Linked DNA regions of Homo sapiens. The gene in region 5 interacts genetically with the main gene of each other region. Each region holds a gene or a part of one and is shown on either strand. Other genes may lie near its edges.

Region 1 (4,535 bases), on a different chromosome or scaffold from region 5:
ATGTATTTTTAGTAGAGACAGGGTTTCACCATGTTGGAGAGACTGGTCTCGAACTCCTGACCTCAGGTGATCCACCCACCTTGGCCTCCCAAAGTGCTAGGATTACAGATGTGAGCCACTGTTCCCAGCCTCATTTTCTTTTTAAAAAATTTTCTGTGACGGCCAGGCATGGTGGCTCACACCTGTAAGCGATTCTTCTGCCTCGGCCTCCTGAGTAGCTGGGATTACAAGCACCTGCCACCATGTCCGGCTAATTTTTGTATTTTTAGTAGGCACAGGGTTTCACCATATTGGCCAGGCTGGTCTTGAACTCCTGTCCTCAGGTGGTACTCCCGCCTCAGCCTCCCAAATTGCTGGGATTAACAGGCGTGAACCACCATGCTCCCAGCCAGAATGTCCCTCTTTTTAAAGGCTGAATAATATTTAATTTTATGTGTATTCAGGTAAGAATATTTTCTATAGTGATAGCTTCAGACCTTTCTTTTAGTCACAGATTGCTTTTTAAAAATCATATCATACCAGAAGCCCAAAACTTAATACAAATAAACACAGAGGGTTGATTTAGAACACAGTTGAAAAGTAGGATAATATTTTGCAAGGACTCACCCCTCATGTTAGCATTCATGCCTCCACCCGCAGATCCGTGGCTGTGACCATGCCCATGGTCACTGTGTCCATGCATATGGTGTGAATGGCTGTGATCAGATGAGTGACAGCTTCCTTGAGAAGCTCCATGGGCATGGCTATGGGCATGGCTAAAGGCACAGATACCAATAAGGTTTACTATCAGCCCTCCAACTGAGACTGGCTAGCAAAAGGGAGAAAAAAAACCTTTAAATTAGTAATTTAAAAATAGACTTGTTATTTAAAAGTTATTATATAGCTATATATGTTTTTCTGTTTACAGTTTTGAAAGTATTCACAGTAAAACCTTACTAAGTTTCAGTAAGTCCAAAATTTTAAAAATGTGAATTTTAGAACATTTTAGAAGAAACATTTTAACTTTCAAATATCAAGCAGAATTGGTAAGTAGAGGAATTTGGACTTATTTCAATTAAGAATGGTATGTACTTGGTTTATGGTTTATGTATAAATAAATGATGCAAAGTTTTGTTTTGTTTATTGAAGAGTTTGAAAGTACTGCTTACTAGGGCAAGTATACACTGTACCTGAAATCTTTATATTGCTAGGTAAATTTGAACAGTTTATATGCCAACAATTATAATTTATTAATGAGCAGATTCCAAATATGGTCTTATTATGTCTTAAACACAGTAAAATTTTCCAAAGTAAAACAAGTATAATAAAAAGGAAACATACAATAGTAATCTCGCATTTATTTAAATTAAAAACAAATTTTTTTCTTTGGTAGAGACAGGGTCTATGTTGCCCAGGCTGTCCTCAAACTCCTGGGCTCAAGCGATCTTCTCACCTTGGCCTCCAAAAGTGTTGGGATTATGGGATTACAGGCATGAGCCACTATGCCTGGCCTCTCATTTTTTTCTTAACAAAGTGAATGAAATTACTTTAATTTAATGGTGCCACAATAATACTCCAAAGGATAAACAAAGTTACTTATCCTTGATTATCTGCTCTTACAAAATGATCTTGAATAGTAGTAGCTCAGGGTGTTAATTTGCCTACATCTACAATTTAAAGCAATCCATTTGTTTTATAAAAGGAAAATATAAATATGAGAAGGACAAATACTTTTAATTACTTTTCAAAAGTAGTAAGAGATTTACTTTATTAAATGTGTAGGGAGGTTATTTACTTCTTCCTGATTCGGACCATTTGACTCCAGATTTTAAAATTTCATTAGGCTTTATAAGCTGGTAGATGGTTAATGACTTTGAATGAAACCAAGTACTGCTTACAGAGACTCCATCATCTCATAAGTACTCCTTCTCCCCTACTGAAAAATACTTCATCATTGTGTATTTTATCAGGAAAATAAAAATGTAGAAGATGAAAGTCCCCTATAATTCTACCACCAAGGGTTAGTCACGCTTAAAATGGTGTATTTTCCATCTGTGTACTAACATACATACACATAACACCCTTTAAAACCAACAATGTAATCATAATACTATTTTACAATTTTTTTTTTTTCATTTTGAGACAGAGTTTTGCTCTGTCAACCAGGCTGGAGTGCAGTGGCATGATCTCGGCTTATTGCAACCTCTGCCTCCCAGGTTCAAGCAATTCTCCTACCTCAGCCACCCAAGCAGCTGGGATTACAGGCGCCCGCCACCATGCATGGCCTGCAATTTGTTTTTCACTAGTACATCTCGTAAATATTTTCAGGCCAGTATATACAGATATATCTCATTCTTTTCAATAGCTCTGTAATATTCTATTATATAGATAACAAATTTATTTAATTACTTTTTTCACTGGTGGACAGTGAATTGTTTCCATTTTTTCACTATTATAAATAAGGGTACAATGAATCATGTACTACTTTTTTTTTTTTTTTTTTTTGAGGCAGAGTCTCTCTATCACCCAGGCTGGAGTACAGTTGGTGCAACCTGGGCTCACTGAAGCCTCTGCCTCGTGGTTGAAGTGATTCTCCTGCCTCAGCCTCCCAACTAGCTGGGATTACAGGTGTGCGCCATCATGCCCGGCTAATTTTTGTATTTTTAGTAGAGATGGGGTTTCACTATGTTGACCAGACTGGTCTCAAACTCCTGACCTCAGGTGATCCAACCACCTCGGCCTCCCAAAGTGCTGGGATTACAGGCGTGAGCCACTGCACCCGGCCAGAGTCATGTACTTCTATATGTTTGTGTGAATGTTTATGTATGATAAATAGTCAATATCAAAGGATACAGGCACTAAAAAATCCAAAAAAGTCTATTTTTCCAAACTGTATTATAGAAACATTTTACTCATGTATGCTTCCACCAGCAAGAGCCAGAGCTGCTTTTTGTCATTTAACAACTGATTTCCTACGACAAGCCAGGTGCTAGAACTGAACTTAAGAGTTAATAATATGTAATTCAGGTCCTGAAGATACTTACATATCTTAATTGTGGAAGAATGACAAATTAAACAACTGCAACTCAATGTTGCTAAAAGAAGAATGCACAAAACATAATGAGAATACTGAGAAAAGGAATCTAACAAACTTTGTGGAGAGAAGAGGGGGATTAAAAGAAAGTATTTCCAAAAATTAGGCAGGCGTGGTGGCAGGCGCCTGTAGTCCCAGCTACTCGGGAAGCTGAGACAGGAGAATTGCTTGAAAAAAAAGAAAAAAAGAAAAGAAAAAAAGTATTTCACATAAGCAAAATCTTGATGGAGGCTGAAGGGCAGAAGTAAGGAAAGGACATGCCAACTACAAGAAACAGCACATGTAAAGCTTTGGTGGTACAGGGAGAACATTAAAAGTTGCTATAGCTGGCCGGGCACAGTGGCTCATGCCTGTAATCCCAGCACTTTGGGATGCCAAGGTGGGAGGATTGCTTGAGGTCAGTAGTTCGAGACCAGCCTGGCCAACATGGCGAAACTCTATCTATACAAAATATACAAAATTTAGCAGGGGGTGGTGGCACATGCCTGTAATCCCAGCTACTCAGGAGGCTGAGGCACGAGAATCGCTTGAGCCTGAGAGGTGGAGGCTGCAGTGAGCTGAGATCATGCCACTGCACTCCAGCCTGGAAAACAGAGACTCTGTCTCAAAAAAAAAAAAAAAAAAAAAGAGAATTTCTAAGAGGGAGCAGTATAAATGTAAACAGCAAGATAGGAAGTTATGTTGATATAAGTAAAAAATAAAACCTTCTTAGAGCAATAACTGCAAACAATTAAACTTTAGGATAGAAAAAACTATGTAAGTATGACTAGAAATCCAAATAGGAAAATAAAAAGACTTACTGTTAACATGTGAGTGTCTAATTCTGGAGGATCAATCAATCTAGCCACTGACTCCATAAACACAAAAAACGCTATTACTATTAGAAAAAGTCCATTAATAAATCCAGACAGAATTTCTATTCGGCCGTACCTAAAAACATAGAACATTTTTCAGAAAAGGAAAAGGACAAATATTTTTAAAGTATAAACTTTATAAATGAGGAAACAAGTCCAAATTTTCATACTACTAAGTAATTAATAATAGAAAATTAGCAATATTTTAAATATCATATTAATGCCTGGAAGGTCCTTCATATATATATACATATATATATATACACATATATATACACGTTATATATGAATATATATACGTTATATATGAATATATAACATTTTAACGAATATATACATTTGTTAAAATGTTATATATTCATCAAAGTCCTTCTTTACTCTCTTTTTTTTTTTTTTTTGAGACAGAGTCTTGCTCTGTCACCCAGGCTGGAGTGCAGTGGCACGATCTTGGCTCACTGAAAGCTCCGCCTCCTGGGTTCACACCATTCTCCTGCTTCAGCCTCCCGAGTAGCTGGGACTACAGGTGCCTGCCACTACGCCCGGCTAATTTTTTTTGTATTTTTAGTAGAGACGGGGTTTCACCGTGTTAGCCAGGATGGTCTCGATCT
Region 2 (4,535 bases), on a different chromosome or scaffold from region 5:
ATGGCAAGACGTATTTCTGTAAATCTCCAGGAGGTTTAAACACAGCTGCTGGAATTAGAGTCCAAAATAGGAAAAGGTGCATCTTGGTGGTCATAAGGAAATGAGGAACCTCAATTTACAAAACTACTTTACTAGCTTAGGTTCCCTAAAGCCCTGAAAGGTTGCCTGAAATACACAAAATTCTTAAAGCAAATCTCAAAAGCAAATCATCAAATCAATAACAAAATTAACATAAAACTTCACTACAAAGATATCCGTGTTTTCCTAAGCTTTGCAAAAAATTCCACTGAAATAAAAAACTCTATATATCTAAATATTAACTTTTCTATTCCTATCTATAAATGAGTTGAGAAAGTAGCATCTGCAATAAGATATCCAAAAATAATCAATTTTACTAAATACTATATAAACAGTATAATGTTATAGTTATCAAGTTGACTATATTATTCAGTTTTTTAAATTTATGTTACCGTAATATTTTTCTATTTAAAAAATTTTAATTTTTAAATCTATTTTTATTTCTACTTATTTATTTTTAATTTTATTTTTTGAGACAAGGTCTCACTCTGTCACTCAGGCTGAAGTGCAGTGGCAAGAACAGCTCACTGTAGCCTTGACCTCCTGGGCTCAAGCGATCTACTCGCCTCAGTCTCACGAGTAGCTGGGACTACAGGTGCATGCCACCACACCTGGCTAATTTTGTTTATTTTTCGTAGAGACAGGGTCTTGCCATGTTGCTCAGCTGGTCTTGAACTCTTGGGCTCAAGCGATCCCCCCACCTCAGTCTCCTAAAGTGCTGTGATTACAGGAGTGAGCCACTGTGCCTGGCAGGTTATTTTTCAAGGACTAAGAAAATGTGGCTAGTCATCTAGTTTTGTTTAGTCAAAGGGACAATATCAGAGAAACCTAACAGCAATTACATTTAAATATTAGTCTGCTGAGTAACAATCAAGAATTGCTAAGCACCCAGGTACTTTAAAATCTCATTTCCAATGATAATCCTCTGTATAATTAATCTATTCAAAATGCAAAATGAAAGCCACTTATAGAAATTACTTTTGCCCAGGAAAATTGTGAAACCAAATGTACCTAGGATAAGTGAAATAAAGTTCTGCAACTTACTCCATAATCTTTCTGCTGCTTCTGGATACACTTCCAAACTGGGAGATGTCAGAGTAATTGAGCAGTGTGGCCCGCAAATAACTAATTATTTTTAAAAATTTGAAATTGATAGCACCCTCATGAGAAACTAGAAAACAAAGTATCGATTCCCATACCCTTCCCCATATCTAATGTAAAAAGACTACTTACTTACCTCATGCGCTAACATTTTATAGAGTTCTTCTCTAGTTACAGAAATCCTCTCTCTGTCTGTACTGTCCACAACAACTATTACAAACTAAAATAATTACAAAAAAATTATTAGTGATTATACAATTTGGTATCTGTAAAATTTATAATGTGTTTATTTGACATACAGGCTATTAATATCAAGAAATTGGAATCTTATGGTATTGTTGGAAAATCAGAGCTACCTATACATTGTGAAGCCAAAAGGTCTGATCGATTTTAATATATTTACTAATTTTTAAGAGAAAAGAGAATATGATATTAACATTCTAACTAATATATATAACGCATGTCTGTTTTCTAAACTAGTATCTTGAATGCTAATGGACCTATATCTATCTATTTGCACTACAAATCAACAAGAAAAACATGCAATATGATCCTGAATTTATTACTTCCAGGTAGATATTATTTATTAATATCAATCTGAACACCTAAAAGGGCACGGGTATGGGAGTAAAGTAATGTGACAAGATAAAGAAATCAATTAAAAAAAAATTCAACCAACTGAAAGAATAAATCTCTATCTAAAAACAAGCTCTCTTCCTTACATAAGTATCGCCTGCTACCTGCAAGCACAACCCCTTCATAAACTGATGATGAGACTGGTATCAGAAGGTGCGATGAAAGACTTGTGATTGTTGTGCAGGACTGAGCTCCACCCCAGCTCTTCCTCAACTCCGTGAGCACCCAAAAGCAAGAGATCAGCAGGAACAGATGGAGATTTAACTTACTTACTTTATGATAACATTTATGATGCCCAAGTTGGTTCTGACTGCCTATTAGTAACATGCACTATTTATTTTTGGGACCTAGATCTTAATTTTTAAATAAATTATTATGATTTTCTGGATCTTTTCAATTATTCAGACTTCATCAACCAAAAGGCAGATGTATGAGAGAACTGCTACTTTACCTCTCCTCTCACTTGACAGCTTACTGATAGGTGGCTTTATCACTGTAAGGCCCATTTTATTCCAAGGTATTTTAATAAAACTGTTAATTTTCAGGCTGTTGGCATGAATTTGAAACCTATAGCATATGTATACAGTAGCATATATACCTTTATAATCATACATAACTTCCCTTATTAAAAAATGATTAAATGCCTAATGCAGTGTTAGGAAATCAAGTTGTCAGATACACTTAATGGTTTCTTAATGACTTAAAAGTCAGCTTTATATACTTATAAACCATGCTTTATTAACTTGTAATAATGAACACTACAAAAACAACGGTCAGTCTTTTAATTCACAGGTCTATGCAATGAAGCACTCAAATGTCAAAGGTCTGAAATTTCCTTTGGGAAATAATGTGTAAATAAAAAGATATGACTATGTCTAAAATGCCTTATAATCAAAAGAAAAACAATTATTTAATGTGCAATTGTGTTTTGTAAAAGAAAATAGTAAAACTGGCTAGGATTCAAACCATCAAAACCCTCTCATTTGGTGAGCTAAACTCAGTCAAACATAAATAGAGAGAAATGAAATTATAAACTATGAGATGGAAGTCATTAAAAAAAACTATTAAAGACAAGTTCTGAGATCAATACACAATCAGAACATAATTAACCACCAATTCTCCCTATAGAGGTTCAATGATAGTGGACATATTGAACAATGACCTTGGAATAGGAAATCAGATTTTACTCTGCTTAAACTCTCTATGTATTAACATACTGTGATATTTCAAAAAGATTAACTATAAGGACTCAAATCTAGATGTTTTCCAAGCATTCTGTTTATAGAATTTTAAATATTGTAAGAAACATTACCTCTGTGTTAGTATAGTAAGTGTTCCAGGAAGAACGAAGAGATTCTTGGCCACCAATATCCCACATTAGGAAACGTGTATTATTAATCACTATCTCTTCTACATTACTTCCTATTGTAGGAGATGTATGTACAACTTCATTCATAGAACTGGGGAAAAAAGTTTATATACATTACAATTAGCAAGGAAGCTAACTTGCTTGAACAATTTTTTAATCAAGGACAAATCAGCATGACCTCCTTTTATAATTTATACCTAAATATCTTTTTCCCACTAGTTTACAACATGAGTGAGGGTTTAAACAGGGCTGGAACTAGGTCGTAGGCTATCTGGCATATACTAGGTCATTCCAGGAAACTTTATAGTTTCTACTTTATAGTTTTCTACTTTCTTTTTTTTAATGTTACCCAGGCCGGAGTGTAGTGGTGTGATCATACATAATCAGTGGCATGAGGTTCACTGCAGCCTTGACCTCCTGAATAGGATCAAGCAATCTTCCCACCTCAGTCTCCTGAGTAGCTGGAACTACAGGTGTGCACCACTACATCCAGCTAATTTTAAAATATATATATATTCATATATATCTTATAAAGAGATGGCATCTCACTATGTGACCCAAGCGGTTTCTCAAAGTCCTGGCTTTAAGCGATCCTCCCACCTCTGCCACCCAAAGTGTTGGGATAAAGGCATGAGGCACCGCACCCGGCCATATTTTTCTACTTTCTACAAACAAAAGAGCTTTAGCACAAAACAAGTGGACAACTCAATGCCAACTATATGCTCAATATCATATAAATTTCTTGCTTTCTACTAACTATTGCTGAGATCTGGCTCCAGGTTTATAGCCAACCTGCTTTCTTACAGGGTAACTTAGGTTTCATGTAATTTCTTACTGCATTCATTGATCGACTATCACCCAGGCCAAAAAAGTAACTAGAAATAAAATAATTTTTAAAATAGTTAATACTTACAATTGGTAAAGAATGGTAGTTTTCCCTGCATTATCCAGCCCAACAATGATAACTTTGTGCTCTGAAATAGAGAAAACACCAGTGATTTTTTTTCAAAAAAGGAAAAAAAAAGATTAATTATAGGAAAAAATATACTCTGTATCTCACCCTTCTATCTATGGCATAATTCAGTGCATGGCACTTTATACTTTCTCAGAAGTCAAAAGAACATCCTAGCAAGACCAGCAGAAGTGTGCCATTATACTCACCTTCCCCATCGCCATTATTCTAGAGACAACTCTCATCTTTCCAACCACCTCTCTAGGAAGCCATGGCACTACATTTCCTCTATTCCTAGGCAAGCCTACTCTCAGTAAAGTAGACCAAACATAATCACAATTTACAAATGACTTAAAGTATAAATGTTTCACATTGGATTACATCAATGAGGTTCTAACT
Region 3 (4,535 bases), on a different chromosome or scaffold from region 5:
AAAAAATTAGCCTGGCGTAGTGATGGGTGCCTGTAGTCCCAGCTATTCAGGGGGCTGAGGCAGGAGAATGGCGTGAACCTGGGAGGCGGAGCTGGCAGTGAGCAGAGATTGCGCCACTGCACTCCAGCCTGGCCGACAGAGCCAGACTCCATCTCAAAAAAAAAAAAAAAAGAAAGAAAATCATTCACTTTGGGAGGCCGAGGTGGGCAGATCACAAGGTCAGGAGTTCGAGACCAGCCTGGCCGATATGGTGAAACCCCGTCTCTACAAAAAATACAAAAATTAGCCAGGCGTGGTGGTGTACACCTGTAGTCCCAGCTACTCAGGAGGCTGAGGCAGAAGAATCACTTGAACTCGGAAGGCGGAGGTTGCAGTGAGCCGAGATCGCGCCACTGCACTCCAGCCTGGGTGACAAAGCGAGACTCAGTCTCGAAAAAAAAAAAAAAAAAAGAAAGAAAGAAAGAAAATCACTGAGGAGGCCAGGTGCAGTGGCTCATCCCTGTAATCCCAGCACTTTGGGAAGATGAGGCAGGAGGATCGTTTGAGGCCAGGAGTTCAAGATCAGCCTGGGCCTGGGCAATACAGCGAGACCCTGCCTCTACAAAAAACATTTTTTTAATTAGCTGGGGGAAGGCATAATGGCTCACACCTGTAACCCCAGCACTCTGGAAGGCCCAGGTGGGAGGATCACCTAAGGCCAGGAGTTTAAGACCAGACTGGGCAACACAGTGAGACCCTGTCTCTACAAAAAAATAAAAAATATTTAAAAATTAGCCAGGCATAGTGGTGCACACTTGCATCCCAGCTATTCGGGAGGCTGAGGCAGGAGGACTGCCTAAGTCCAGGAGTTTGAGACTGCGGTGAGCTATGATCATGCCATTTGCATGTCAGCCTGGGCAATTGAGCAAGACCCTATCTCTTAAAAAAAAAAGAAATATGGAGAAAGAATATCCGCCTAAACAAGTTTTTAATATAGACAAAAGTGCCCTATTCTGGAAAACAATGCCATAAAAAACATTCATTAGTAAGGAAGAGAAAAAGCACCAGGATTAAAGGCAGGAAGGGATGGGCTAACTCTACTGTTTGGTGAAAATGCAGTGTGGTTTATGATCAGAACTGCCCTTATCTATAATGCTACAAACCCCCAAGCCTTGAAGGGAAAAGATAAACACCAGCTCCCAGTCTTTTGGTCATAGAACAAAAAAAGCCTGGGCAATGAGAACCCTTTTTCTGGATTGGTTCCATTGATGCTTTGTCCCTGAAGTCAGGAAGTATTTTGCCTGTAAGTTCTTTTATTATTGAACAATACCCCTGGCCACCCGGAACCCCATGAGTTCAACACCAAAGGTGCTGAAGTAGTCTACTTGCCCCCAAACAAAATGTCTCTAATTCAGCTTCTAAATCAGGGGGTCACGAGGATCACTGGACACAGTACACTACAGAAAGTACTGTCAACTCTATGAAAGAGAATGCCAATAAAGAAACCATCCTGAAAGTCTGGAAGGATTACACCACTGAAGAAGCCGTCGTTGTTATGGAAAAAGCCATGAAAGCCATCAAGCCTGAAACAATAAATTCCTGCTGGAGAAGACTGTGTCCAGATGTTGTGCATGACTTCACAGGATTTGCCACAGGGCCAATCAAGGAAATCACGAAAAAGACTGTGGATATGGCAAAAAAAAAAAAAGGGGGGGGTGGGTTAAAGGGTTTCAAGATACAAATCTTGGAGAAATTCAAGAAATAGACATCACACAAGAGGAATTTAAAAAGATGACTCGGTAAGTGCTTCCAATCCAGTACCAGGTAATGTAGAAGGAATGCAAGAAAACAAAATGACATCAGACGATATGGCAGAAGACTGTCTGATTGTTCAAGACTGCTTTTGACTCCTTCATGACATGGACCCTTCTCTGATATGGGCACTGAAACTAAAGCAAACGGTGGAAGAAGGATTGGTACCATATGGAAATGTTTTCAGAGAAATGAAAAAGCAAAAAAGGCAGAAGTATGACGTATTGCCATAAAGTTACACCATGTGTGCCTGCCTCTCACGCCTCCCCTTCCCCCTTCCACCTCTACCATGCTGAGACCAACAAGACGAATTCCTCCGCTTCCTTCTCCTCTCAGCCTACTCAATGTGGAGACAATGAGGATAAAGGCCTTTGTGATGATCCACTTCCACTTAATGAAGAGTAAATATATTCTCTCTTCCTTATGATTTTTTTTTTTTTTTTTTTTTTCCTGAGATGGAGTCCCGCTCTGTCGCCAGGCTGGAGGGCAGTGACACAACCTTGGCTCACTGCAACCTCCACCTTCTAGGTTCAAGCAATTCTCCTGCCTCAGCCTCCTGAATAGCTGAGACTACAGGCACATGCAACCACGCCCAGCTAATTTTTGTATTTTTAGTAGAGATGGAGTTTCACCATGTTGGCCAGGATGGTCTCGATCTCTTGACCTCAAGATCCGCCCACCTTGGCCTCCCAAAGTGCTGGGATTACAGGCGTGAGCCACGGCGCCCGGCCTATGATTTTCTTAATAACATTTTCTTTTCTCTAGCTTACTTTGAGAACACAGTATATAATACATATAAGGTACAATGTGTTAGTTGACTATGTCATCGGTAAGGCTGGAAGTCAACAGTAGTTTATTAGTAATTAAGTTTTTGAGGAGATAAAAGTTACATGTGGATTTTCATCTTGATGGGGGTCTGTGCCCCAAACCCAGTGCTGTTCAAGGGTGAACTATACGTGCTGAAAAGTGTCATTAAAATATGAAGAAACCAACTTTTCTCTAAACTTTAGATGCACTTCCCTGAATAATTTCCAAAGGTTGGGTATCTTATTTTCCAACCGTGCATTTACAAGCAGAAACAGCAAACGATAGGTACTATACTGATATACATGTAGAAATGAACACATGATCCCTATTAAAACATTTTCATTATTTATCATTATTTCCTTTCAGGTACTTCTGTACTACTCTAAGCCTCTGTAGACAGTCATATAGAGGATGTGTTCTGGCCAAGTTTGGTGGCTCACACCTGTAATCCCAGCATTTTGGGAGGCCAAGGGAGGAGGACCACTTGAGCCTAGGAATTCAACACCAGCCTGGGCAACAGAGCAAGACCTCATCTCTAAAATAAAATAAAAAATAAAAATAAAAAAAGGATGTGTTCTTTTCTTTGTTATCTAGTCTGACAAAAATTTCTCCAAAATAGACTTCTTTGGTAATTTTATTTTCATTACATCTTTATGCCATTAAAACCTAAACACTAATCTTTTTTTTATTATTATTAAGAGGAACTATTCCTAATTGCACATTACCAGGTTTCTGTTGCTTATTATTTGGTGCATCCTCAGTAGGTATACATCTTTTCAGCTTACTCAGCATTGAGAACATAATATTGTGTGTTTGTTTACTTACAAATTAAAAGTAACATTATATCTCTCATCGTATGCACACTTGACAACCTATGAGATGTATCAAGCAGATACTTCTAATATTTGAACCTTAAAAATAAACGGAATTTTAGTTGATAGAGGGCTGGATGTCTGTAATTATGTCACGAAGCAATCAGGGTTATCAGTACATCTACATTTCTCACGCTGTTGAGGGGGTCGGTTTACCAAGCATAAGACAGGACCTTTTGGCCTCAAGAATTTCAGTTACAACCTGCCTAACCCCTAGAGTTTCACTAAACTTCCTAAGAGAGAAAGAAAAACCTAAAACTTAGAAAAAGAAAGCAAATTGTTTACCCTGGCTTAGTTCTAATTGTAAAGAATCAACTTTCTCAAAATTACAATCTTTTGACATTTGGCAACTGAATGAATCAAGTAGTTATTCAGAGAGCTCAAGACATAAAAACTAATACAACTTCTATTATATATTTTTCTCCTTCAGGTACCAGTACAATTCCATGTGTTGGAGAAATTGAGTAAGTCAAATCCCAATTGATTAGGCCCTAATTATCAAAGACACTTTCACCTTGTGAACTTCTCACAGTAACTGTCTTAAACCTGCTAACAGTACTCCCATGAGTGGAGAACACTGTGCTTCATTTTTAGTTTAATATGTTAGTTCTCTTCAATGAACATAGTTTTTTTTTTTACATTACAGTAATGAGGCACATGAAGGTTAGAATTTGTTTTTGTTTTTTTGTTTTGTTTTGTTTTTTGAGACAGAGTTTCACTCTTGTTGTCCAGGCTGGAGTGCAATGGCAAGATCTCGGCTCACTGCAACCTCCGCCTCCTGGGTTCAAGTGATTCTCCTGCCTCAGCCTCCCGGGTTCAAGTGATTCTCCTGCCTCAGCCTCCCAAGTAGCTACGATTACAGGCATGTGCCACCATGCCCGACTAATTTTGTATTTTTAGTAAAGATGAGGTTTCTCCATGTTGGTCAGGCTGGTCTCCAACTCCTGACCTCAGGTGATCCACCTGCCTCGGCCTCCCAAAGTGCTGGGATTACAGGCATGAGCCACCGCGCCCGGCCTATAAAATCATTTTTAATAAATAATATTAAATGCTATACAAATGAAG
Region 4 (4,535 bases), on a different chromosome or scaffold from region 5:
CACGTCCAGCTAATTTTCTGTATTTTTAGTAGAGACGGGGTTTCACCGTGTTAGCCAGGATGGTCTCGATCTCCTGACCTCGTGATCTGCCCACCTTGGCCTCCCAAAGTGCTGGGATTACAGGCGTGAGCCACCGTGCCAGGCCTACATGATTATTTTTCTTTAGTGTCATGTTTGTGTCAAGAAGGCAGGGAGCCCAGCACAAGCCCTCTTTTCTCTTAATGCTCGAATTCAAGCTGCTTTTCATTTCTCTATTCCCAGCTTTTGGCTGAGTCCCCATGTTATTTTGTGTCAGACTTCCTTATTGACCTCATCTTTCCTTGCTGGAGGTAGACATTGGATCACCATGAAGTGGAGTAGTCTGAGCCAGCACAGCTGATTTGGAAGGAATGTGAGGTTTCAACTGCATCCCTCAGGGCTAACACTCAAATCTACAGCATCCTCTTCCCACTCTGTGGCACTCAGTGCCCAGACTCAAGTGGCTGCTGTGAAGCTTCTGTTTAAGAATTGTTCTCTGCTTTGTACTTCATCTACAAGTGAGGTGAAATGCATCACAGCAATATGTCTTTGAAATAAACAAAGCCTATTGGATTTTAGATAATATTTTATTTGAGCAGTTTTACAAGAACAGAAGCTGGAATGGTGAAGAATATAAGTAGAATTTACCTGGAAATGGGCTACTTTTTTTTTTTTTTTTTTCTTTAGCAAAGTATTTGAGACCCTTGACATCATTAGACATGCATCATCGTTTTATGCATTCAGTTATGGGGCTGATAGAAACTCTTTGGCTTCAGTCATTCTTTAAATGGGAAGTATAGCTTCTCCAGGGTTGAGATTCCACCTTCAACACTTACTAGTTCTTACTGAATCTGTAAGCCTGAGTTTCCTAATCAAAAATGGGAGGTGTGTATATTGAATGAGATCAATGCACATAAAGTGCTTGGCACTCAGTAACAGGTGGTTTCTGCTCCTGTCAGGTAACTTTTCAATTTCTGCCAATGTTTGCAGAGAACTTCATATGAGTGGTACATTCCTAAAGGGATCTTAAAGACTGGCTGGATGAATAAGCATCTGAATCTGGTGCCAGCCCTGGTGGTTGTGTTCTATGAACTGGACTGGGATGAGCCTCAGTGGAAAGAAAAGCAGTCTGAGTGCGCCACCAGAGTGGAAATAGTCAGGTATGATCTTCTGTGTCAGGGCAGCTATGTCAGTTTGCACATGTGTGTTATTCACTAACATTCCTTGAAGGCAATGGAGTACCGTTCAGACTGCAGTGGTCACTTTGCGGATTGACCTCCAGTGAATCTTGTTCACTTCCTCACAGGTAGCATAATTATTGACTGTATATAATGCTGGGTACGTGAAGAAATTTAGAAGACTAATTGGTCTGAATTTCCAAATGTTTTTCTTGTATTATCTTTTTTGGAGACATAGTAATTTACTGTTTAGTCTCTTAAAACGCTTTGCTTTATCACTGTTTAAGTTTCAAATAATTAATTCTTTTGGATGACTACTCTGCAGTGTATCACCATAAAGAAGTAAGTTGCATTATAACTTTTACGTAAAAGTATACATTAATCTTTTGCTTTTAAGGAAGATTTTTAAGATTAGAAGATGTGAGATCATACTTTTAGAATTTAAATCATTGTGACATATATGTGCTTTGTGTGCAGGAAAAGATTTCTTCTGATCTTGGTTTTTTTAGTTGAAATTTATCTTCGGTTGAATGACCAAGGTTGTATTTTATGTGAAGTCATGAATACATTTTTTAAGTTAAAATAATTAATTTTATTCTTGCTTTTTCATTGCAGGCAAAGTTTACAAGGAAGAAACACAAAAGTTGCAGTGGTTCTGATTCAGAAGAAAACCCCTTTGCCCCCAGGTATCAGAAGTCTAATTAATGAATTAATTGTTTTATACCTCCAATTCTTATTAAAGGGAGATAGGGGTTTTTTGGATGTTTAAATCTTTTATGCATTCAGTTATGGGGCTGATAGTATGTTAACTTTAAAAAGCACCAATGATACATGAACAAATGCTTATTGTAAAAAATTAAAGATAGTGAAGAATGCAAATCTCAAGTTCCCCTAGTTCCCCTGTTCCACTTGTCTTCTTATGTAGGGGATATAGGAAGGCATGTTCAATTCACAAAACAATTCGCTTGAATTTTTTTACAAGAGTATAATTTTTTTTGACTTCCAAAGCTTTCCAAAAAAGAATATAATTTACTTATCTAAGATCTATTTGAAGCTGTATTCCTTATATGAAATTTTTTCATTAATTTTCTGTAGGGCAAAGAAAAAGGCTATAGGATTTGTAGTTTTCTCTTGGAAAATGTCTTAGTTTCAGATTCTTATTTCCACTTTCCCAGACTTTTGTAGACCAAAATATATTTTTGTTTCTGTGTTGAAACTTATAGCATCCAAAATGGTTTTGGAGACTTCTTTCATGAATTATTGCTTCCAGTTTTAGTTATGTTTTTTGAAATAGTTATGTGGTATATCTGTTGGCATTACTTGGCCACCTATCCTGGCTCAGTAGAAAATTCCACAGTGTTTTCCTAAAAGGCATATACTGTGTAACCTCTAAGAACCACACAGAGCTCTCAAGGAGCCCAGGAGTCCTGTTGGTGTGATGAAAAGCTGTTTGGGTTTTTATTCCTAATTCTATTTTTTCAGACTTGGGGAAATATTTATTTGGGAAGCTACATTAGTTATTTTATTTCTCATTCATCTTGATGGGGATTATCAACAGGAGAAGATGTCATTGCTTCAGAAAGGGCTGCAGCTTTATGCAATGCATGTGAACTCTCAGGAAAGTCTTTGTTTGTACTGCCGCACACTGACCACCTTGTGGGTTATATTATAAGGTAAGTAGAGGTCTTTTAAAGTTTTGTTTTTTTAGATTATTAAGAATTGAGAAATTGGTAGCTTAGACCCATTTATTTTTTTAAAAAATCATGTTCATGAAAAACATTCATATGATACAGAGGCTATGGGGTAAAAATAAAAGTCTTTTTTGTTAAATTCTTAACCCTCTCCAATTCCCTGAGGTAACCAGTATCAACAGTTGCTCAAGTTTCCTTCCAAAAAAAGTCTTTTTGTATAAGAACAAATATATGTATTTCTTTATAGTATCCATACCACACACACAAACACAAAAACATAAATGTGCTCATATGATACACAGTGATCTTCCACTTAACATTACCTCATTAACATGCTTCCATATGTGCATCTAGGTCAACTTTATTTAAAGAAACAAAGTTTATATGTTTCTCCATTATACTTTCCAGTAATTACCCATGTCCTTGAGTGACATGTATGTCCTTTTTTGTGAGAGTGTCTCCATTCCACTCTGGCCTGTTTTTGCTTCATTCTTGAGCTGTCGATGTATCTATGTCACTAATTTCTTAGGAAGGTGTGAGCCCTATCATATCTTAAATATTTTTATAAAGCCTTTGTGTATAAAGGGCAGATTACCTGGAGACACAACATTACCTCAAAAATCATGTGGTCATTATTCATTGTTTTGTAGCATTTATTGTCACACAGAAGTTTTGTAGTAGTACATTTTATGCTAGGATGTATTTAGATATGAATATTTTCATTGATTTTGACTGTAAAATGGTTTTCCTTTTCATTCTGCATAAGTGTCCTTCGTTAACTCATGAACAGTTTTATTTATTTTTGAGTATTGCTTCTCTTGCATTTGTTTCTTTCTCAGAAGCAAACCTCTGAAAATGATCCGCTGCAGGAGGTTACCTGGCCTTCTCACTGGTATATAAAAGACCAGGCTTCTAAGAAAGAGAAGCATACATTTAGCAGAGAACATGCAGAGGAATAGGATCAAATGAAAAGATGAATTGCAAAGAAACTTAAATGCAATTAGCAAAATAAATCTTTACACTGGAAGCAGTAAACAGTAGAATTCACACCACAGAAAATCAAGTCCATGGTGCCCAGGGTAACATTGAGATAATTGCTTAGAATTCAGAGGAAAAGAATAAATGAGTTTTATTCCTTAAATGCAGACATATGAGCAATAGGGAACAGAGAGAAGAGAGGGGCAGCTGGTAGCACACTCAGGCAGCTTTTCTTTCCACTGAGGCTCATCCCAGCATCACACCTGGCCTCAGCTCTCCAGGCCTGGACAGCTCACCATTGACTCTGCACTTCAGTGCTTTCCTATTCACAGTGCTGTTCCTTGTCAGATGCTTTCATAGTCATGCCCACCTGCCAGCTCTCCTTTTCTGGGCTCTCTCTTACTCAACATTTAAGGCTTCAACGAAGCCTTCATTAGAAAGCTGTTGTCCTCTGTGCTATACCCTGCTGTAATGACTCTTCACTGAGCAGCATTACCTTCCAGAGACTATTTGGCAATGCCTGGAGACTTTTATGATTGCCATAACTGAGGGGGTTGCTGTATTGGCTTCCAGTGGGTAGAGGCCAGGGATGTTGCCACACACTCTACAGCGTACAGGACAGCCCTGCACAACAAGGAATTACCTGGCCGAAATGTCAGCAGTGCTGAGC
Region 5 (4,535 bases):
GGACCTAGAAGTCTTTCGTTCAGAGAAGCTTAGCTTTCTCCTTTCACTCTGCACCTGGGAGGGGAGAGGGTCATTTTTTTTCTCCTAGCAGTCATTGTCTTTATTTTGAATTTAAAAAAAAGGCAGGCGGTGTGCAGTGGCTGTCATGTGTAATGCCAGCACTTTGGGAGGCCAAGGTGGGAGGATCACTTGAGGCCAGGAATTTGAGACCAGCCTGGGCAACATAGCAAGACCTCATCTCTACAAAAAATACAAAAATTATCCAAGCATGGTGGCACGTGCCTGTAGTCCTAGCTACCTAGAAGGCTGAGGTGGGCAGATCCCTTGAACCCAGGAGTTCGAGACTGCAGTGAGCTATGATTGCACCACTGCACTCCAGCCTTGGTGACAGAGAGAGACTCTGTCTCGAAAAAAACAAAACAAGAAAGAAAGAAAGAGGCCAGGTGTGGTGGCACATACCTGTAATGCCAGCACCTTGGGAGGCTGAGGATGGAGGATCCCTTGAGCCCAGGAGTTCAAGATCAGCCTGGGCAACATAGGGAGACATTGTCTTTATTAAAAAACAAAAAACAAAAAACAAACAAACAAACAAACAAAGCAAGAAAAAAGCAAGCAGGCAAGCAAGCAAAAGCTAACAAAAGGCAGCTTGTCTCTGTTTTTAAAACCATGTAAGACTCATTACTAAAACATTGGTTTCCTTTGCTGTGTTGCCCAACTAGTAAATTCTAGCAGTAAACTTTTTCAAGGACTTCCTTGGCCACAAAATCTGTCAATTTGATGGAAAAAATTCTGTTATTATCTTAACCTGCATATGCTGAAGTTGTGCTGTGTTTTATTCTGAAAAACAAAGTGTTGTTTTCTCTTGACCTAAGAGCACCTAAGGTCACGGTTGATTGCATGAACAATTGATTCCTGAGTGAGGCATTGGCAGTTACTACCACAGTGGCTTCATTTCTCTCAGACAGAGGATCGATAAATTCAGAGTTTAAAAAATCCTTCTTCTTCAATGTGGATTAAGTACTACAGAAATATCAAACAAAGTCCCAAATGCTGAAGGAGGGCCCAGCAATCCTTCTCAGACAGACTACTGCAGTTTGACATGTTAACATAAAACTCTAGAAGGTGGCCAGGCGCGGTGGCTCACCCCTGTAATCCCAGCACTTTGGGAGGCCAAGGCAGGCAGATCACCTGAGGTCAGGAGTTTAAGACCAGCCTGGCCAACGTGGTGAAACCCTGTCTCTACAAAAATACAAAAATTAGCTGGGCATGATGGCGGGTGCCTGTAATTCCAGCTACTCAGGAGGCTGAGGCAGGAGAATCACTTGAACTGGGAAGGAGGAGGTTGCAGTAAGCTGAGATCGCGCAACTGCACTCTAGCCTGAACGACAGGGCGAGACTCTGTCTCAAAAACAAACAAACAAATAAACAAACAAACACTCCAAAGGACTTCTCCTCTAACTCCAAGAAGCACCTAGGAAGAGCCTTTTCACAAGCCCTTTGTCTTTGAGAGACATCTACCTCTGGGTTGCTACTTTCATTAGAGGAGCATGAGCCCTCTTCTTGATTCTTCAGCCTTTTGTTTTAAACCTATTAGCGTCAATTTTCCACCTTTTTAAAAATCTGTTTGCCACTTCTTTTAAGAACTAGCTCTAAAATTCACTTCTGCCAAGACTTCCATGATTAATTTCTTTCTACTGATAAGTCTCTTCAGCTCATACATATATTCCATTGGTACCATAACTAATGTTGTTCTCTATTCTAATTTTGTTAATGTTTCTAGACTGTAAGTCCCTCGAAGACAGGGGAATTTCTAGAAAGCCGAAAAGGAATTTAGAGACTGTCTAGTTGTATCCTTTGTTCATTTTATTGATGAAGAAACTGAGGCCTAGGGAGGGTAATCAGTCCAAGTCAGTTAGCCAAGTTAGAAAAACTAGGTGTAGAGCCCAGGTGTCCTGACTTTGAGCAGTGTGCTTTCCACTATATTAGGTAATCTTTTTTCTATTTCACTTGGATTTCTTCAGAATGCCTTGTAAAGTGCCACATACACACACGTCTCTCTGTAAATGTCAATACAATAAGCATAAGAGTTTACATAACTGAGAAACTGACTCAAGGAAAGAGTCAGAAAACAGAAAGGTCATTTTCTTACTTCTTTGCATGATGCCACCCTCCAGACCAGTTAATTGCTACTTTGCACATTCCGTCAATCAGGCATTGGGCAGCTGTGATCGTAGCCCCTCCTATAGCTGCTGCATAGTCAAATATCCCTTCAGTGGCTGGGCAGTCATAACCTTAGGGCAAAAATCAGAAGAGCTGGTTAAAAGGTGAACTGGAAAAAGAGGAGGAATAGGTTGAGGTGTGACAACAACCTAACCTACTAAAAAGCCACTGTGCTAATATCAGCTCCAACTGAGACAGAAACAACTCCAATGTTGGGGATATAATATTTTAAAAGGTTAGAGCTAGAAAGGATAAACCCTCCTGATGAACTAGTCACAGGCTACAGATAGAGAAACCAAGCCTGAGAGGTGATGTGTCTTGTCAGTGGTCACACAGAGCCAGGCTTGGGACCCAGCTCTGTTGACCCCCCAGTTCAATGTTCCTCTGCTAAACCATGCTGTTTTTCTAGACTATCCTGCAGGTCACTTACAGTTTTAAAAAATGCAGCTGTTTAATGAGGGGTGAGGTACAAAAACTTAGCCAGAACATAAATCTGTACTCCAGTTAAAATATAAGGTCACAGGACAGCTAAATCAGCATATACACAGCCAGACCAGATCTGAGCACTGCCAGTAGGGCATAAGCAACTGAAAGGTTTTCTTTCATCTAACCCTTCATGTGGTTTTGCTCAACTCATATGGTTTGCTTGTTTAGTGAGTTATATGTGGCTAAACCAAAAGATTAAGATTGACAGTTAACACATGATTTCTTAACGAAAAATATTAAAAAAATCATACAAGTTATAAAAAAAATTAGTCTGTCCATCTCCCATCACTGCCTGGTAATGACTTTACCTAGCCCATATTCTATGGAGTCCGGATGATCATCATCGCCCTCTTGGCTGACCTTCTGGAGATGCTGCAGATAAGCATCAGTGTGGAAGGTGGCCATCTCCTCCATGGAGGCCACTTTAGGCTTAACTATCCTAATAATAACAGAGAGAACAAAGAGAGGTCAGTGAGTCAGACCCAGCGTATGCCAGAAGCTAGAAACAGAAGCCAGCAGTCTGAGAAGAAAATACGTCTCAACTTCTGGTTCCAATAGGCTGGAGTAATAAACATATTCTGTTCTTCCACTGCACTGTGCGGTCTTCACTGCCTCACATCTACAGTAGTGACTCTATTAATAAGGGGCAAGAAGATAGATTTTCCCTTGAGTTTATAGGTAAGTAAACAAAAGTAATTATATTCAAGTTAAACAAATAATCAGGTATCAGACAGACTTTACCCTGTGAGTTACAACTTTCAGGACAAACTAGTAGGCAGGGATATTTTCATTTGAACCAGTTGCGAATTGGGCTATCTAATCCTTTCAGCTATATCTTTATTTTAATAGGCAGCTATGTTATCATGCATTTTGAATTTGGAGTCAGATTTGGAGTCAGAGAATTGGGTTCCTGTCCTAATTCTGTACTTACTAGCTCTATAACCTCAGATAAGTCAACTGTTCTGTAGTTCAGTTTTCTTATTTGTAAAATGGGGAACTTTATGGGACTTATGTGAAGATAAAAGGATAACACATACAAAAATGCTTGGTGGATAACTATCATTCTATTAACAGATAAAAAATGGGCAACCCAAAATGTAATGTTTCTAGACTTGGACCCTCCTATCTGCCTCTGAGAGCGAGGCGAGAAGGGGCAAAATGGTTGGAACCGGACTTCACTCAGAACCTCTCAACCTACTCCTCACGAAAAATGACAAATAGAAGCGAGTGAGGGAATAAAGGGAGCTAACCCAATAAGAGGCCTTACCACATCTAACCTCTAGCTGCCTATTCCCCATTTCCTCTTCTTGACCCCACAGCTGCCACTACTGTTCTCTAGCCCTTGCCACTTAAAGGGTGGTCCATAGACCAGGAGCATCAGCATTCCCTGGGTGCTTGTTAGAAATGCAGAACTTCAGACTTGCCTCAGACCTGAGTCAGAATTTGTATTTTAACATGATGATTTTTAAACAAGATGACACATTTTAAGGTGATTCATATACACATTCAAGTTGAAGGAGCCCTGACCTGGGCCACAGGGAGGCAGCAGTGGTTTTAAATGTCTGCTGAATGGGAACACAGCCATGAGTTTACGATGAATGAATACGACTATACAGGCTACTACTATCACCAAGGTAGCTGGAAGAAATCCTGTGGTTTGGCCTCAAAAGTGAAATACATAGCCAAGACCCAAGAATTCTTGCTTCTTCTTAAAGAAGACAAATCTATACCACCAGAGGTGAAAAATCTACCCATTAAAATAAAAATTTTGTAATATCTCGGACCGTATTTCCCAGTCCTAAAAGCTCCCTCTTCTAGTACCCTTCCAT
Region 6 (4,535 bases), on a different chromosome or scaffold from region 5:
GTCATCCGCCTGCCTTGGCCTCTGAAAGTGCTGGGATTACAGGCGTGAGCCACCGCGCCCGGCCTTACCACACTGTTCTTAAGACAGATGATAATAAAGTCACTTGACAGAAAAACTGGGTGCAAAATGTGTGGCTTTGATTTACAGGCTGACTGAAATTAAAGCTTTCTTTCTGAACTTAAACCTCAAAGCTACAGGTAATTTTTTTTTTTTTTTTTGAGAAAGAGTTTTGCTCTTATTGCCCAGACTGGACAGCAATGGCGTGATCTCGGCTCACCGCAACCTCCGCCTCCCGGGTTCAAGCAATTCTCCTGCCTCAGCCACCCAAGTAGCTGGGATTATAGGCATGCGCCACCACGCCCGGCTAATTCTGTACTTTTAGTAGAGACAGGGTTTCTCCATGTTGGCCAGTCTGGTCTCGAACTCCCGACCTCTGCCTGCTTCGGCCTCTCAAAGTGCTGGGATTACAAGCGTGAGCCACCATGCCTGGCACAGCTATAGGTAATTTAAACAAAATAGGTGAAAAAATTTCTAGCTATAAAATGGACACAATTTAGTCTTAAAACTCAAACAGAATATTGAAACATTTACAAATAGAAAAAAGCTCAATGCATTCTACAGAACAAAAATGTCCAGTCTTTTCCTATATAGTTAAAGCCAGTGATCCCATTTTTATTAATATCTGCTAAAACCCATGTAGCAGTTTGTAGATGTAGTTATTTACTCAGGAATCCTAAGACACAAAAAATAAACTAAATTTTAAGCAGCTGTTTCAAAAAAGACTATACACACATAAAATAGGATTACACACTTTAATCTGATTGACACTGAGGAAGTAGGGAGGACATGAAAGAAATTTAGTTTTAGCTCTGCTTTATGCATAACCAGATGCTCCTTTTCTAAAAAGTATATTGAGGTTTTAAAAAACACATTTATCAGAATACTTCAGGAAACCATACTATGTGTAATCCAGGAAATACACTATTTGCAGAATAGGAAAATCATCACTGGCAACAAAAGATTAAAACAAAAATAAAGCACCAGGGTTCTGAGCAGTTCTAAGGTGAGTATATCAGCAGAAATAGTGTAAATGCTCTTGACTGGTTGCTATGCAAACATGCTAATGAGGACTAGTCCATGTCTTATAATTTTTTTTTTTAACATGTTTCTTTGGAAAAATGGCAATATTGAGTGGAAGAGAAGCTGTCCTTTTAGACACCCAGCTTATTGGCCTGGGTGAGAACAACTTTGAGAACTGGCATGAAAGCAGAGGTCTCACTGAAGTTGCTGGTGCTAACTATGTGGGTATGCATGGTCAATCCTTCTGAGTAGTTTCGAGTTTCAATGCTCCTTGCAATGTTGTGTAAACCACTGGTGATTGTTGGTGAAAGCTGAAACAAAAGTGAACCAAGAGAAAGAATTAAATTAAGGGATAACTTCCCATGAGATCCTCCATAAACATTAAACCCAGATATTTAAGTGGAATTTGAAACAAACATTATAAAAATATATAAACCATTTAGCATTTCTAGAAAGTTTCTTGAACCAAGCAACAGTTATCAAGTACAACCACAACAAAATGATTTACATAAATAAGTTATTTATGAATTATACATGTATAAGCCAGGTATTTTCTTACAGAAAAGCAGCCCGATTTCCTCTCCAAACTGAAATGCTAATTTCTCTCTCCACTTAAGAGAGCTTCAGACCTTTAAAAAATTCTCCTATGCACAAAAAGGAGATTAAAGATTCTTAATCATAATATCTCAAAGGAAGGGCCCAAATTTACTAATTCTTACCTGCTTTTTATAATCCTGTCATCTCTTAAAACTATAAAACCTGTAGTTTTTTACTATGTCATTACTTGGCATAGGTGTCCATACTTTACAGAAGACTTTATTTGGATTTTTTTTTTTTGAGATGGAGTCTCACTCTGTCACCCAGGCTGGAGTACAGTGGTGCGATCTCGACTCACTGCAACCTCCGCCTCCCGGGTTCAAGCGATTCTCCTGCCTCAGCCTCCTGAGTAGCTAGGACTACAGCCGTGTGCCACCATGCCCAGCTAATTTTTGTATTTTTAGTAGAGACGGGGTTTTGCCATGTTGGCCAGGCTGGTCTCAAACTCCTGACCTCAGGTGATCTGCCCGCCTCAGCCTCCCAAAGTGCTGGGATTACAGGCGTGAGCCACCATGCCTGGCCTATTTTGATCTCATTTTTAAAAAATGTTTTAATATATACTCATCTAGATGTATACGCTAATTGTATCTTCTGTTTTTTTTTTTTTTTTTTGGAAATGCGGTCTTGCTATGTTGCCCAGGCTGGTCTCAAACTCCTGGGCTCCAGTGATCCTCCCGCATCAGCCTCCTCAGTAGCTGGGATTACAGGCATATCCCACTGTGCCCACCGAGAAGACTTTATTTTGGATCAGTCCAAGGACCACACTACTTCCACTGTTATATCAACTTTCTTTAGTTTGGTTCTCATGAGAGAAATGGTTATTTTCATCTGATGGAACTGAGTGTGGGGAATGGGTTAGAGGAATGCTGAAATGGAAAAAATAAAAAGAAAGTCCCACTTCTTTTTTTCTTCTCCTTTCCTAGTGCTTTCATTAATAAAACAAGACAATTTTAGAAAAGAATGGTGAGGTGGGGACAAGAGAACAAACGTAGTGAACTGACTTCTTACTCCTGGCTATCTTCATAGTTACAGCACATTACCCTATTCATCTTGTGGCTACATTTGGCTTTGCTTTTGTATAATGGCTATCCTAAAAGAAAAGGGTCAAGAGTCTTAGACTATGATAAAGATTATAGATTTAGTCCCTGGAAAACAGAGTATCTGCATACTCTTTGATTTCTTGTAACTGGGCCATATAAAAGGAACAGCAGAAGGTCAGCTACCTTATGGCCAACACAGGCCAGTTTGTATTTATACTCTTGTTATGAGAGGGTTAAAATGTCTCTCTCAACACACCCACACAAACACACACACACACACCCGTATCCCCTTAACCCCAGTGAGTGGAATTTATGATTCAACACAGCCATGCCCATTCTCTAAATGTCATGACAATTTTGCCCCCATGCATACTAAATGGGAGTGCTGATAAGACAACTGTTTTACTAGCAACTAGGAATAAATGATTATCATAAATCCTTTTCCTCCAAAACTTACTGTCTGTTCCCTAAGTTTATCATACAGAAACTCCAAACGTTTGCTGGCATCATCTAGCTTCCTCTTGGTTTGCTGCAGGAAAGAAAAAATAGATGTTATATTTGAACATTAACTTTTAACCTAAGAACTTGCCCTATCTCATTGCACTAAACCTTATACTTAAAATGTTGAATGGCTTCATTTTATAAAGAAATGGAGGCAACTACAACTAAGAAACTTGAACAGATTATGGCCGGGCGTGGTGGCTCACGCCTGTAATCCCAGCACTTTGGGAGACCAAGGCAGGCAAATCATGAGGTCAGGAGTTTGAGACCAGCCTGGTCAACATGGTGAAACCCTGTCTCTACTAAAAATACAAAAAATTTGCTGGGCGTAGTGGCAGGCGCCTGTAATCCCAGCTAGTCGGAAGGCTGAGGCAGGAGAATTGCTTGAACCCAGGAGGTGGAGGTTGCAGTGAGCCGAGATCACGCCACTGCACTCCAGGCCCAGGCGACAGTGCAAGACTCCGTCTCAAAAAAAAAAAAAAAAAAAAAAGAAACTTGAACAGATTATTAGAACAGAGATCAATCATCTATCAAGGGTGGAGGGTGGAGGGGACTGGGATGAGGAGAGGATGAGACTTACTTCCAGTGCATGAAAGAGTACTGATTGGATTTCATATGAACTGCAAACTCACTTGATAAGGTATATATGCATGTTTGCTTGCACTATATTCACAAGCATCAGGAGGCAGCAATGGGTCAGTGTATCACAAAAAAGAAGGTCTAAGTAGTTATTGTCGATTATGGGTGGTAGAAGGCAAACATATAGGTGAACTGTGGAATCTTGTTTTAACCTTTCAAAAATACTACTTAAACACTTAGTTACATTTGTTTAATCCTGCCTTTTTCTAAGCCTTTAAAGCACCAAGAAAGAAAGAAAACTATCTTTTGGCAGCTTAAGATTACTGAGGGAAGTAGTAAAATAAATTATTAAATTAAAAAGCTTTTTTTTCTCTCTACCATAGCACTGTAAAGTATAATCAAAGAAACTATTCTAAAACTAAAACTAACAGTTTTAAAATTACATGATTAACTTAATGTTCTACATTATACCACAGCCTTATGTTAGTTCAATATTTATTGGCTGCTTACTATGTGCTGTACCAGGGACAAAGTCTTGTATGTCATGTAGCTCATATCCCACTGGGTGAGAAAAGATACTAAATGAACAATATATTGCATGTCAGATGGTGATAACTGCTATGAAGAAAAGTTAATAGAGGAAGGGGGCTAAACATGTTGGGAGTTGGGGGTAATAAAGAAAGGCCTGATGGCTAATGGGACATGTGAGCAGAGGCCTTGAACTTGGGAGGAAACAAA
Region 7 (4,535 bases), on a different chromosome or scaffold from region 5:
CTCTCCATCTAAAGTAGTCCTCCCCACCCCTACAATTACTTTGAAGCTCATCACCCTATTTATTTCCTGGATAGCACTTATTAAAATTATATTCTTCATTTGTTTACTTGTTTACTCATTGTCTCTATGTAAGTTCTTTGAGGGCGGGTACCTTGTCTTTCCTGTCACTTCTATATCGCCAGCATCTACAACAGCTCTTAACATACTGAAAGCATTCAATCAACATCTGTTGTGTAAAAGGACAAAGCAACTGAATTATTAACTATATGCATACTTAGGTTATAGTGACAAATGGTAACAGATGTTGACAACTGATAAATGTGCATTTTGTTCAAGGAATATAATTTTGAGCTTTGTGTGGGAATGAATTATGTAAATTAGAAAGGTTTCCTGCTGTGTACTGATCATATACAGTATATTCTTCCGGTGGCCTGTGGTTTCCCTTTGGTAATAAATAATTCCTTGTTCAGTAATTCTTATAAAAATTCATAAGCAAATAAATGTTTTTATTTATCACATTAATGCAAAAGCTCAAGAATAGTTGTTTTTTAAAAAGCCTCTCAGATAGGTGCATAACTTTGGGCTGGCGTTCATTCTTCCCACTTAGCTGACATTTCTGAATCTTGATCCCAAGGTCTTTAAACATTTTATCTGAATGAGTGTACTCTCTGAATTTAACACCAAATGTTCTGCATCTCAACCTTGGACTTTTAAAAGATGATTTTTTTTTCTGTTCTGTACCAAATTACAGAAAAAAATTTTTTAAAGGACAAAGTGAAAAAATACACTTTATCACATAAAAGAATCACCTATGTATCTCAAAACATTTTTCTCATTCAGAATCTCATTATGTTTATAAAACACTATACTTCCAAGGCTCTTAGATGTTTATTAACTGAAATAATAGAAGAATTATGTCAACAGTAAAATTTTCACATTAATCTATCCAATAGGATTCAAGTATATATGTTAGCCCCTTAGATAACATGTGTTCCAACAAAAAAAATATATAATTTTTAACTAGGTAGAATTTATGTATACAGTATTTAAAATTTCAGGTTGGCCTAAATAAGTTGTTCTGGACAAGTTTTGTTTTTATTAAAAATTAACCACTGGATTAAGATGACAATTATTGCTTCCTTTAGTTAATACTCAAAAAGAAAGCCATCCTTTGCTCCTGTGTAACAAATGGCCTTTATTAATTAGGTCTCTCAGTTTGTGTGCTGGCAACATTTGGCAAAGTCCAGTCCTCACCAAAAATAGTAACAACCTGCTCTGGATGGCAATCAAGCAGCAAGCCTATTTTTGGCCTCAATGTTTGAAACACCAAATGCCAGATGCCATCGAACAGAACCTTAAATGGCATAAGTAAACTGGTCTGATACTGAAATACAGAAGGATTTGAGGCTCTCCAAAACACTTGTTTCTTTAGTACAAAAGAAATAAATGTTTCAGACTTAGCAGGGGAATTCATATCTAATGCTGACATATGTAAAACCAAAAGAATCTTAACAGAAGAAAGGAGCAGCAGAATGCTATAACCTCAGCTTTAGTCCTTAACATTACTCTAAATTTTCTGTTTGTTCAGTATTTCTGGCTTTTATTATTAATATCTTTGTTAGCTTACCTGTCTCTGAGTGTGCTGGGGCCTAAATAAGGATATAGGTTTTCCTTAAGCCTTCCTTTGATGAGATGATCCAGGGTTTCATGTAGGAAAGGTTGATGCTGTGTATATACATTTTCTACTCCCTAAAACAGGGGAAAATGGTTCTTATGTCATTTTTGGGAAATTGGCAACACAAGAATTAATAATATTCATATCAGAAAAGGACATACACTCAATAGAGATTTCATGGGATAGATTTACGTAACTGTGGGAAATTTAAAAATTATTTTAATCAGCTAGAAATGTTCTAATCTCATAAAAATTACTCTGTAATTTAGGGCTAGTTATTGTAAAGGATTTTTTAAAAATGGAATTGCTTAAATCCTTAATCATGTCTTCACTGTCTCTCACCCTTTTGTGAAATGTTAAATGATAGGTAGAGCAAATAAAAGGAAAGGATTATGTATAAAAAAGACTGAAAATACCCAGGAAAATAGAAAAACTTCAGGAAACATAAGAAAGGCTGCCGGGCGCGGTGGCTCACGCCTGTAATCCCAGCACTTTGGGAGGCCGAGGCGGGCAGATCACAAGGTCAGGAGTTCGAGACCATCCTGGCTAACACGGTGAAACCCCATCTCTACTAAAAATACAAAAAAAAATTAGCCGGGTGTAGGTGGTGTATGCCTGTAGTCCCAGCTACTCGAGAGGCTGAGGCAGGAGAATGGCGTAAAACCCGGGAGGCAGAGCTTGCAGTGAGCCGAGATCACGCCACTGCACTCCAGCCTGGGAGACAGAGCGAGACTCCGTCTCAAAAAAAAAAAAAAAAAAAAAAGAAAGGCTAGCAGATTAGAATTAATTTTTGAGTATTTTAAGAAAACAGGTTAGTATTTTTAAAAGATCAAAAGTTTGCTTCATCTTTAATTTCCTTCAAAGAGAAACTACCTAAAAAATCTTTAATTATAAACAAATGGTGTAAAATATCTGTGACTAACAGAACTGTTGGTCTTTTTCTTCTTATTTCCTGGAAATACCTCCAGTTATTTCCTGCTAAGCTATTTGGTCCAATGTTGATACGGCTCTAAGACAGAAAGCACTAAAAGAAAAAGCTTTCAAGAGGATGCCAGTTTTAATTTCATTTAACTGACACAGTACTAAATTAGCAGCAATCTTCAAGATACTTTGAAGATCATATTCATTCACTCTCAGCCTCAAGGACTTCAACTGTTCTCACTCAGGAGAGCATAGAGGAGATGTCTATACCTTCAGTCCTTTGAGGAATTGTTTGGTGATAGCCACAGCATCTTTGGGGCTGAAGAGGTCACTTCCTCTGACTCGTTTACCACCATATTCAACAACTGCAGACACGAGCTATTAAGAAAGAGAAGCAAATTTTGATTGCTTAGGCATCAGGAAGCCCATTTCATAAGAAAATAATTTTATTAAGGAAACAAAAATGAAAAGACAGAATTATACATTTCTGTAAATAAAAATAGTATGATTTATCATTCGTTAGAGCTAAGAATATAATAACAGAGTTGGTTCCTGTTTGGTGGGCTAATATGGAAACTGGTTACCTTTCGATACTTCTCAGAAACACCTTTATTCCTGAGGTCCATCATTAGTCCTGGCAGGCTATTGCTGCTGTGTCGCTCATAATGTAAAGCATAAAGCATCACCAGGCGGGCAGCATCAAACTCTGTCACTTTGGGGTTCTGCAGAAGCCTTTTTATATTCTGAAGAAAGATAGAACTTATATTTATCCCCCTTTCACTTGAGTCATCTGTTGTACAATGCCTTAGATCTAATAATTATTGAATGGTAGTGATACATCACTACTATGACAATTATAAGTCATACATTTAGCAACTGTCTCAACTATAGAAAATTAAATGCCTTTTGTCCAAGGTAAGAATTAAATAAGGAAATATATTTCCATTGTAATTGCTTTAGGACAAAAATGAATTTAATAATGGATAGTTCCACTTTTCTTTTCCAATAGCTGAAGTTGTAATTTCCTTGCTGAAAGAACACTTACTATTTCCACGACTTGAATCAATACGGCACAACAAAACTGACTAGTTGATTTGCAAAACCTACTGCTTTCTCTTAGTATTAATGATTGACCAGTGAAATGGAGACAAGTTGGTAGAATTTTACACAGACTGGGCTTGATCTCTAAGAAGCATCAGAACATGTCTCAACATGGTTGACAGAGATGAGTATGTAATAGCATGTAATCTCTAGATTTAGTACTTAATGATTTTAAGAGGCAGGTACCGATAGGAAAGGGGGCCAGGAGAAGCCATGTTTACATTTTTTAATCCTCATATTCAGGACCTTCCATATAGTATAGATTTATATTTATTATGCAGCAGAACAAATAATTTAATTCAAGTCAACAAATACTTTTGAGTCCCCATAAGGCAGTATGTCATGCACTGTTGCAGGCACACAGATAAGTTAAAGACAATTCCTGTCCCCAGTGAGTTCACAGTCAATGGGGTGAAGGATGATCAAAGTAATATAATTTATTCTGCTATATACATGTTTCTTTAATGTACTTTAGTTCTGTGAGATGGATAAATATGGAAATGGTGTCAGTTTAACACAGAAGGCATATTGGTTCACATGTAATTTTTCCAGAATGGATAGGCTTTCTTATGATTAAAGGGGAAGCCTTACCAATACCTTAAGAAAAAAAGATGATAATCCTACAGAAGTGTGTTCTGCAAGAAGTATCTGGTTTTGTAGCTTCAAGAACTGTTGCACTTTCCACTGTGTTATGCTATATGGGGAAAGGGCAAGTGCAAATAAAAAGGATGCAAATATATTGCACTGTGTAAAAAAGCAAAACAAAACAAAATAACAATCAAACACTGATTGATGAAGAAAGCTGTCTCCATATGGTATTTTTAATTTTGACAAAGTA

Evidence for each region.
Region 1: changes in HDAC8 (region 5) and SLC30A5 together harm fitness more than expected from each alone (negative genetic interaction), as found in Homo sapiens cells (one large-scale study listed by BioGRID).
Region 2: changes in HDAC8 (region 5) and ARL5A together harm fitness less than expected from each alone (positive genetic interaction), as found in Homo sapiens cells (one large-scale study listed by BioGRID).
Region 3: changes in HDAC8 (region 5) and FUT8 together harm fitness less than expected from each alone (positive genetic interaction), as found in Homo sapiens cells (one large-scale study listed by BioGRID).
Region 4: changes in HDAC8 (region 5) and TRAPPC11 together harm fitness more than expected from each alone (negative genetic interaction), as found in Homo sapiens cells (one large-scale study listed by BioGRID).
Region 6: changes in HDAC8 (region 5) and SEC31A together harm fitness less than expected from each alone (positive genetic interaction), as found in Homo sapiens cells (one large-scale study listed by BioGRID).
Region 7: changes in HDAC8 (region 5) and VPS45 together harm fitness more than expected from each alone (negative genetic interaction), as found in Homo sapiens cells (one large-scale study listed by BioGRID).

What each region holds. Positions count from the first base shown.
Region 1 is NC_000005.10:69,117,967-69,122,501, reverse strand, and holds part of SLC30A5 (proton-coupled zinc antiporter SLC30A5), read right to left. Parts: intron 4,004-4,535; coding exon 3,874-4,003; intron 809-3,873; coding exon 607-808; intron 1-606. UniProt on the Homo sapiens protein: Together with SLC30A6 forms a functional proton-coupled zinc ion antiporter mediating zinc entry into the lumen of organelles along the secretory pathway.
Region 2 is NC_000002.12:151,811,042-151,815,576, forward strand, and holds part of ARL5A (ADP-ribosylation factor-like protein 5A), read right to left. Parts: intron 4,159-4,535; coding exon 4,098-4,158; intron 3,276-4,097; coding exon 3,128-3,275; intron 1,400-3,127; coding exon 1,316-1,399; intron 1-1,315. UniProt on the Homo sapiens protein: Lacks ADP-ribosylation enhancing activity.
Region 3 is NC_000014.9:65,418,900-65,423,434, reverse strand, and holds part of FUT8 (alpha-(1,6)-fucosyltransferase), read right to left. Parts: intron 1-4,535. UniProt on the Homo sapiens protein: Catalyzes the addition of fucose in alpha 1-6 linkage to the first GlcNAc residue, next to the peptide chains in N-glycans.
Region 4 is NC_000004.12:183,665,249-183,669,783, forward strand, and holds part of TRAPPC11 (trafficking protein particle complex subunit 11), read left to right. Parts: intron 1-1,008; coding exon 1,009-1,178; intron 1,179-1,811; coding exon 1,812-1,882; intron 1,883-2,754; coding exon 2,755-2,869; intron 2,870-4,535. UniProt on the Homo sapiens protein: Involved in endoplasmic reticulum to Golgi apparatus trafficking at a very early stage.
Region 5 is NC_000023.11:72,565,740-72,570,274, forward strand, and holds part of HDAC8 (histone deacetylase 8), read right to left. Parts: intron 3,146-4,535; coding exon 3,015-3,145; intron 2,292-3,014; coding exon 2,150-2,291; coding exon of another isoform or gene 2,146-2,149; exon of another isoform or gene 2,058-2,145; coding exon of another isoform or gene 2,018-2,057; exon of another isoform or gene 1,843-2,017; intron 1-1,842. UniProt on the Homo sapiens protein: Histone deacetylase that catalyzes the deacetylation of lysine residues on the N-terminal part of the core histones (H2A, H2B, H3 and H4).
Region 6 is NC_000004.12:82,817,863-82,822,397, forward strand, and holds the end of SEC31A (protein transport protein Sec31A), read right to left. Parts: intron 3,247-4,535; coding exon 3,175-3,246; intron 1,392-3,174; coding exon 1,212-1,391; 3' UTR 647-1,211; downstream 1-646. UniProt on the Homo sapiens protein: Component of the coat protein complex II (COPII) which promotes the formation of transport vesicles from the endoplasmic reticulum (ER).
Region 7 is NC_000001.11:150,090,741-150,095,275, reverse strand, and holds part of VPS45 (vacuolar protein sorting-associated protein 45), read right to left. Parts: intron 3,340-4,535; coding exon 3,181-3,339; intron 2,975-3,180; coding exon 2,867-2,974; intron 1,750-2,866; coding exon 1,628-1,749; intron 1-1,627. UniProt on the Homo sapiens protein: May play a role in vesicle-mediated protein trafficking from the Golgi stack through the trans-Golgi network.